Homo sapiens: one gene and its partner. The protein of the gene in region 1 purifies or fractionates together with the protein of each later gene. This does not show direct contact. Each region holds a gene or a part of one and is shown in the gene's direction. Other genes may lie near its edges. The genes, in order: OR51V1 and ZMPSTE24.

The links.
Region 2: the proteins of OR51V1 (region 1) and ZMPSTE24 purify together in Homo sapiens (affinity purification with mass spectrometry; one large-scale study listed by BioGRID and IntAct). This does not show direct contact.

Annotation. Positions count from the first base shown.
Region 1 is NC_000011.10:5,198,956-5,202,137, reverse strand, and holds OR51V1 (olfactory receptor 51V1), read left to right. Parts: upstream 1-1,455; coding exon 1,456-2,403; downstream 2,404-3,182. UniProt on the Homo sapiens protein: Odorant receptor.
Region 2 is NC_000001.11:40,264,644-40,268,473, forward strand, and holds part of ZMPSTE24 (CAAX prenyl protease 1 homolog), read left to right. Parts: intron 1-3,142; coding exon 3,143-3,229; intron 3,230-3,775; coding exon 3,776-3,830. UniProt on the Homo sapiens protein: Transmembrane metalloprotease whose catalytic activity is critical for processing lamin A/LMNA on the inner nuclear membrane and clearing clogged translocons on the endoplasmic reticulum.

The DNA of each region.
Region 1 (3,182 bases):
TTGTTGAGTTGCAAGATCGTTTTAAAAAGGGTAGGAAGAAATTGAGGAAAAGATGATGAATAATTTAGGCAGATAGAACATTTCGAGAAAAATTTTACGAAAGAAGAGAAATTCGATTTAGAGAAATGAAAGAAGATACGTATTCAAAAGACTGAAAAATCCTCTGCAAGAAACGAAGAAACTTCAAGCATTCTATGGAGAAAAAAGTATTAAAAATAGTGAGCTAAGTTATTCAATGCTGAGAAGGAGTCAGGGCAAGAAAAACAATGGTTAGACTGCTAGAAGACGTCAGTGTAGTATAGAGAGTACATTGAGAAGAAAGTCTGTGGAACTGTGTTGTGAGGCTAATAAGACAAAGCTGAAAAGTAGGACATAAAGGGCAGCCCAAATCTGAAGTTACTTTAACATCTCGAAGTTACTCAATCAAACATGAAAGTATGGACTTTTGAACATCTGTTTACATTATTAGAGCTTTAAAAAAACTTATGATGATTCTCAGGTCTGGAACTTAAAGCAGGCAAACAATGTAAAGAAGAAGCCAATTGATTCTGCTACCATGAGGCTTTTGAAATTATAAGCTTGCTTGTTTGAGCCTGGCTTTGTGATCTGTAGAACTGCAGGTTCTAAGAAAGAAAACACAATTGGCCAATACATTGAATAAATGTATATTGAATAAATAGTTAATCAGCTCATTAACTGAATAAATAAAGGAATGGGAAGCACTGAGCTGCTATCAAAGGCTCAGTGTCTTCAATCTAATTCTCTACATCACAAAGGCACAAATGAGTTGAACATCTCAAGAGGCCAGAGCTCCAGTGAGAAATCATTTACCCAAGGTCTCATGCATAAATATTCCTGTCTGCTTATCACCAATGAAGAAAAAGTAATTGCTGGCTACGTCATCTGGAGGGGGAGAAAACAGGAGTATCTTCATTAAATAGTATTTGGAGAAAAAATATACTTGGAGACGGCACAAAATGGAAAATGACGGAAAAGTGACTATTTAATAGACTTATGATATTTAAAGCCCAAAGATTACTCTTCACTTCGAATGTTTAATGAATTGGAGAGAAGAAAATAATTTTTCAAGAACCTCGGCTCTTTACTGGTATAAAATTTTTACCACTATCCTTGGGAAAATGTCTAAGCAACGTATTTTTTTAAAACTAGCCTTCTCCTTTTACTAATCTCTTCCTTATTTGTTTTTGCTTATGGCTTCTAAGGATATGTTCACATCCAGACAGTGAAAAAATAATGACTTTTAAATGACATCAAAAGAAGACCATTTTCTCAAAGGCAATGGATACTATGTCTCAAAGAAACAGAATTTCTCAGCTGTTTTTTTTAAGTCAGTAAGTTTTAGGGTATTTCATTTACTTAGAAATTTCATTGTATTCAGGTGAAATTGAAACATTTCCTTTGAAAAAATACTCTCACATGTTTCTCAGTTCCAGAATGATTACTTCAGTAAGCCCTAGCACCAGCACGAATTCTTCCTTTCTTCTCACTGGATTTTCTGGCATGGAGCAGCAATACCCCTGGCTTTCCATCCCCTTCTCCTCAATCTATGCCATGGTGCTTTTGGGCAATTGCATGGTTCTCCATGTGATATGGACTGAGCCAAGCCTGCACCAGCCTATGTTTTACTTCCTGTCCATGCTGGCCCTCACTGACCTGTGCATGGGGCTGTCCACTGTGTACACAGTGCTGGGGATCCTGTGGGGGATCATTCGAGAGATCAGCTTGGATTCCTGCATTGCCCAGTCCTATTTCATCCATGGTCTGTCCTTCATGGAGTCCTCTGTCCTCCTCACTATGGCCTTTGACCGGTACATTGCAATTTGCAATCCACTACGTTATTCCTCCATCCTGACTAATTCCAGAATTATCAAAATTGGGCTCACTATAATAGGTAGGAGTTTTTTCTTTATTACACCCCCCATCATCTGTCTGAAATTTTTTAATTACTGTCATTTCCACATCCTTTCTCACTCTTTCTGCCTGCACCAGGATCTTCTCCGCTTAGCCTGTTCAGACATCCGATTCAATAGTTACTATGCCCTGATGCTGGTTATTTGCATACTGTTGTTGGATGCTATACTCATCCTTTTCTCCTACATCCTGATTCTTAAGTCAGTCCTGGCAGTTGCCTCTCAGGAAGAGAGGCATAAATTATTTCAGACCTGCATCTCCCACATCTGTGCTGTCCTTGTGTTCTACATCCCTATCATTAGCCTCACAATGGTGCACCGTTTTGGCAAGCACCTTTCCCCCGTGGCCCACGTTCTCATTGGCAACATCTACATCCTTTTCCCACCTTTAATGAATCCCATCATCTACAGTGTCAAGACCCAACAGATTCATACCAGAATGCTTAGACTCTTTTCTCTGAAAAGATATTGAGAGATATTGAGATGTATTGCCTAAAAAAAAGAAAGAAAAGCAGCAACAATAATAAACAAAAATCAGTGCCATAAAAAAGAAAAAATTATTAAAATTGTAGATTTACTCTGAGTCCATGACAAATGACCTTAAAAAATATTTAAATATAGTCAGAGAATCAACAAACAAGTTCCATTGTGTCAGCCTGGACACATGTAGGTCACTCTATCAGTCTGACCATATTTAAGAAAGAGGAAAAAATTGTTTATTTGCCTGAAATGTACTTTTGAGCATTTCCTTTGCTGTAAAACAAAGCTGGATTAAAAACCTAGGTTTTCAAGTTTCAAAGTAGAAAACTTGAAGTTTCTTTCATTCTCTGAGGTTTACTTAATTAACCTTCAAAATGGAGACTATAGCCAACTCACAGGAATGTTGTGATATCTGTATGGACCAGAATTGTCCAAGGGAACTTTTCTAAACTGATGGCGATGTTCTATAAAATACCATAAAATGGCTAAAGTGGAATATATGGCTCCTGTGCGCTTGAAATGATGGTAGTGTAATTGAACAACTGCATTTACAATTTCAGTTACTTTAAGTTAATTTATATTTAAATGTTTAATGTCCTTGTATTGGACAGTTCAGTTCAGCAGCCACTATATTGGACAGGGAAGCTACAGTTCATAAAGAGGACACAAAGAAATATGACTTTGGATTCAACTTCTACCATGTCTAATTTAAATTAGAATCCTTATTTTTTAGATTTTATATGTGGACTCCACTGCTACAAGGCTGGAAGC
Region 2 (3,830 bases), on another chromosome or scaffold:
GGTGGGAGGATCACTTGAGCCCAGGAGTTTGAGACCAGCCTGGGAAACATAGTGATACCCCATCTTTGCAAAAAAATTTTTAAAAAATCAACTGAGTGTGGTGATGTGCACCTGCAGTTCTAGCTACTTGGAGGCTGAGGTGGGAGGGTTGCTGGAGCCCAGGAGATGGAGGCTGCAGTGAGCTGTGATCACACTGCTGTACCCCCGCCTGGTGACAGAGTGAGATCCTGTCTCAAAAAAAAAAAAAAAAAAAAAAAGAATGTAGTGAAATAATATATGTCAAAGCGCTGGAATTATTTTTTCTGGGATCATTAATTTTGCCATAGAACAACCCTGGGAGCATGCTTAGTGAAATTGTCAACATAGAGACATTGTACAGTTCACCATGCTTTGTTTTTCAGTCCCCAAAAGAAACTAAACATGCTTTGTTTTTCAGTCCCCAAAAGGTTTGCAGTATCAGTTTTCAAATGCATTTATAGATCATTCAGAATTCATATTAAAACTACCCTTGATGCTTATTTAAATACTGGACTTTTAATAATAGTTGCTGTGGCCTTTACTAAAAGCATTATAAGTCCTTAATTATACATTATTTATTAGTATTGGGAATTGGCTGAAAGAAATACCATCCCAGGTCAATTAGATCAACAACTACAGCATATGTCAGACAGTGGTACCAAAGCATGTCTTTTGGGAAAACAAGGTTTATGTCTAAGATTGAATTAGTTGTAGTAAAGTGGAAATACCTGGAGGTAGTGTTAGGGGAGCCTTTTGAAAAGCAATTTATTGGGGCTGAGTGCAGTAGCTCATGCCTGTAATCCCAGCACTTTGGGAGGCCACAGTGAGAGGACTGCTTGAGGCCAGCCTGGGCAACATAGTGAGACCCCATCTGTACAAAAAATTAAAATTAGCCAAGTATGGTGGTGCATACAGTCCTGGCTACTTGGGGGGCTGACATGGAAAGATCCTTTGAACCCAGGAGTTCAAAAATTCAGTAAGCTATGATCATAACACTGCTCCCTAGCCTGAGTGACAGAGTGAGACTCTGTCTCTTAAAAAAAGAAAACAATTTATTAAAGCAATGATTTTCAAACTTTAGTGTACATCAGGTTTACCTAGAAACTGCTGGGCCCCACTTCCAGCTTCTGATTTGGTACATCTGGGGTAGGGCCTGAGACTTTGCATTTCTAAGAAATTCCCAGATGCTGTTGCTGCTGTCCAGAGACCATATTTGAGACCCATGATATTAAACCAATCCAATGTACTGGTAACAGTCTAAAAGATGGATAGTTTAAAGTGTGGGTGAGATTGTGGGAAAACAGAAACACTGGAGTACTGCTGATGGGAGTGTAATTTGTTATAAACACTTTAGGAAATATCCTGATAATACCAAATAAAGTTGAAGTCCACCATGGATGGATCTAAGAAAATTTAGAATATAAAAAGCAAATCATAGACTGATAAGTATAATATGATGTCATTTATATACATTCTTTAAAAGCATACATAAATCACTATATTATTTGTAGATACATGTATGAAAATGGGAATTAGATTGGAAGGGTACCCATGAAATATGATAGTACCAAAACCCCTCAAACCATGAGGAACTATGTCTGAACCAGTGGGAATATTGTGCTTCTAGTCAAGGAATGTGATTGATCATTGTGTTCCTAAGCTGCTGTCCTACAGAGAGAAAAAATAAATTGATTCCTCTTGACAAATGAGTTCCACAAAGTTGTATGTGTTTTGGGCGGTAGAATTCTTAAACATGCATTCTTCTCAAATTTTGAGCTGCTTCCTAGCTCCTAATGTCCTGGTTATTTAGTGAATGTCTGTGTTCACTTTATCTGCCCAAGACCAAGACAAAGGGTGGTGCTGAGGAAGAGCCTTCTCCTGTGAAAGCCGGGCCCCTACCTCACCTCTTCCTGACCCAGCAAAGACACAGATAATCCCATTCTGTTCCCCAGTTTAGTAAGTGGACATGACTCTCCACTTCTGTGCTTTGTTCTGATGGAAAAGGACTATTTTCTTTCACAGAAAAGACAATTATGGAGCCATATTAATGTGGTTCAAATTCCATTTCTATCACTCATTAGCTGTTGGATTTCGAACAAGTTTTTTTTTTTTTTTTTTTTTTTTTTGAGACAGGGTCTCATTCTGTCACCCAGGCTGGAGTGCAGGCACGATCATGGCCCACTGCAGCCTCGACATCCCAGGCTCAAGCAATCCTTCTACCTCAGCTCCCCCGAGTAGCTGGGACCACAGAATCATGCCACCATAATTGGCTCATTTTTGTATTTCTTGTAGGGACAGGTTTCACCATGTTGTCCAGGCTGGTCTCGAATTCCTGAGCACAAGCAATCTGCCTGCCTTGGCCTCCCAAAGTGCTGGGATTACAGGCATATGCTACCATACCCAGCTGTTTAACCTTTCTAAGTTTAGTTTGTGATTTTGTTGTGGTCTTTTGACAAAAGGTTTTTTTTTGTTTTGTTTTAGAACAGCTTTATTGAGATAATTCATGTACCATACAATTCATATACCATACAATTCATCCATATATAGTGTACAGACAAAAATGTTATATTAACCACCTAAATTTAGTATCTCAATGGTTAGTACTCATCTAAATGCATAATTTATGCTAAATGTGAAATAGGTCTATTTTTTAAAAAAATATTTTATTTTGTTATTTTATTTTATTTTATTTTATTTTATTTTATTTTATTTTATTTTATTTGAGACAGGGTCTCAGTTTATTGCCTTGCTGGAGTGCAGTGTCACAATCACGGCTCACTGGAGCCTTGACTTCCCAGGCTCAGGCAATCCTGTCACCTCAGTCCCCCAAGTAGCTGGGTCTACAGGTACGCACTATCAGGCCCAGCTAATTTTTAAATTTTTTGTAGAGATGGGGTCTCAACTCACCTTGTTGCCCAGGCTGGTCTTGAATTCCTGGCCTCAAGCGATGCTTCTGTCTCAGTCTCCCAAAGTGCTGGGATTACAGGCATGAGCCACCGTACTGGCCTCTTTTGTTTTTTTAATAGAGATGATTATTTTGTCCTTTCTTTCTTTATACCATGCTTTCTCATATGATAGTTTCTAGTACTGTTCAACTGTGATCAAAGTATGCTTTGTTTTATAGCTTATTCTTCTCTTTGGAGGAATACCTTATCTCTGGAGACTTTCTGGACGGTTCTGTGGTTATGCTGGCTTTGGACCAGAATATGAGGTATGTGATTCATTAGCATGTATTTGTCATGGTATTTCTTTTAGCTTGGCAGGCTTTCCACTAAAGTTAATTTTTTGGCTTCTGCCAATGTTAAGATTTGCCTCTCTGTTTGCATAGTCCTTGGTTACCCATGCTGTATTGGCATAACATTAGTTACAATAACAAATCCCAGAATATCACAGGCTTATTTGCAATGGTTTATTTCTCAATCACGTAATAGTCCAGTGTGAGTATTTTTAGTTATCAGGTGACTTTCTTCCATGTGGTAAGCCAAGAATCCAGGCTCTTTATCTTAGGGATTTGTCTGTATGATTTAAGGTACCTTTCATATAGTGCCTGTGTAATAAAAAAGGAATTGTTTTGTTTCTCATTTACTTCTCTCAAAAGTAAACTTTTTTGAAGGCAGGGATGATATTTCAGACCTTATGTTATCCATAGAATCAAGCATATTGCTTGGGATGTAGTAAGTAAGTGCTCAGCAAATACTTGTTGATTTGTTTGCCAGTAGTTCATAAAAACTGGATTTTTGTTTTTTCTTTTGTTTAGATCACTCAGTCCCTGGTGTTTCTGCTGTTGGCTACACTTTTCAGTGCATTGACTG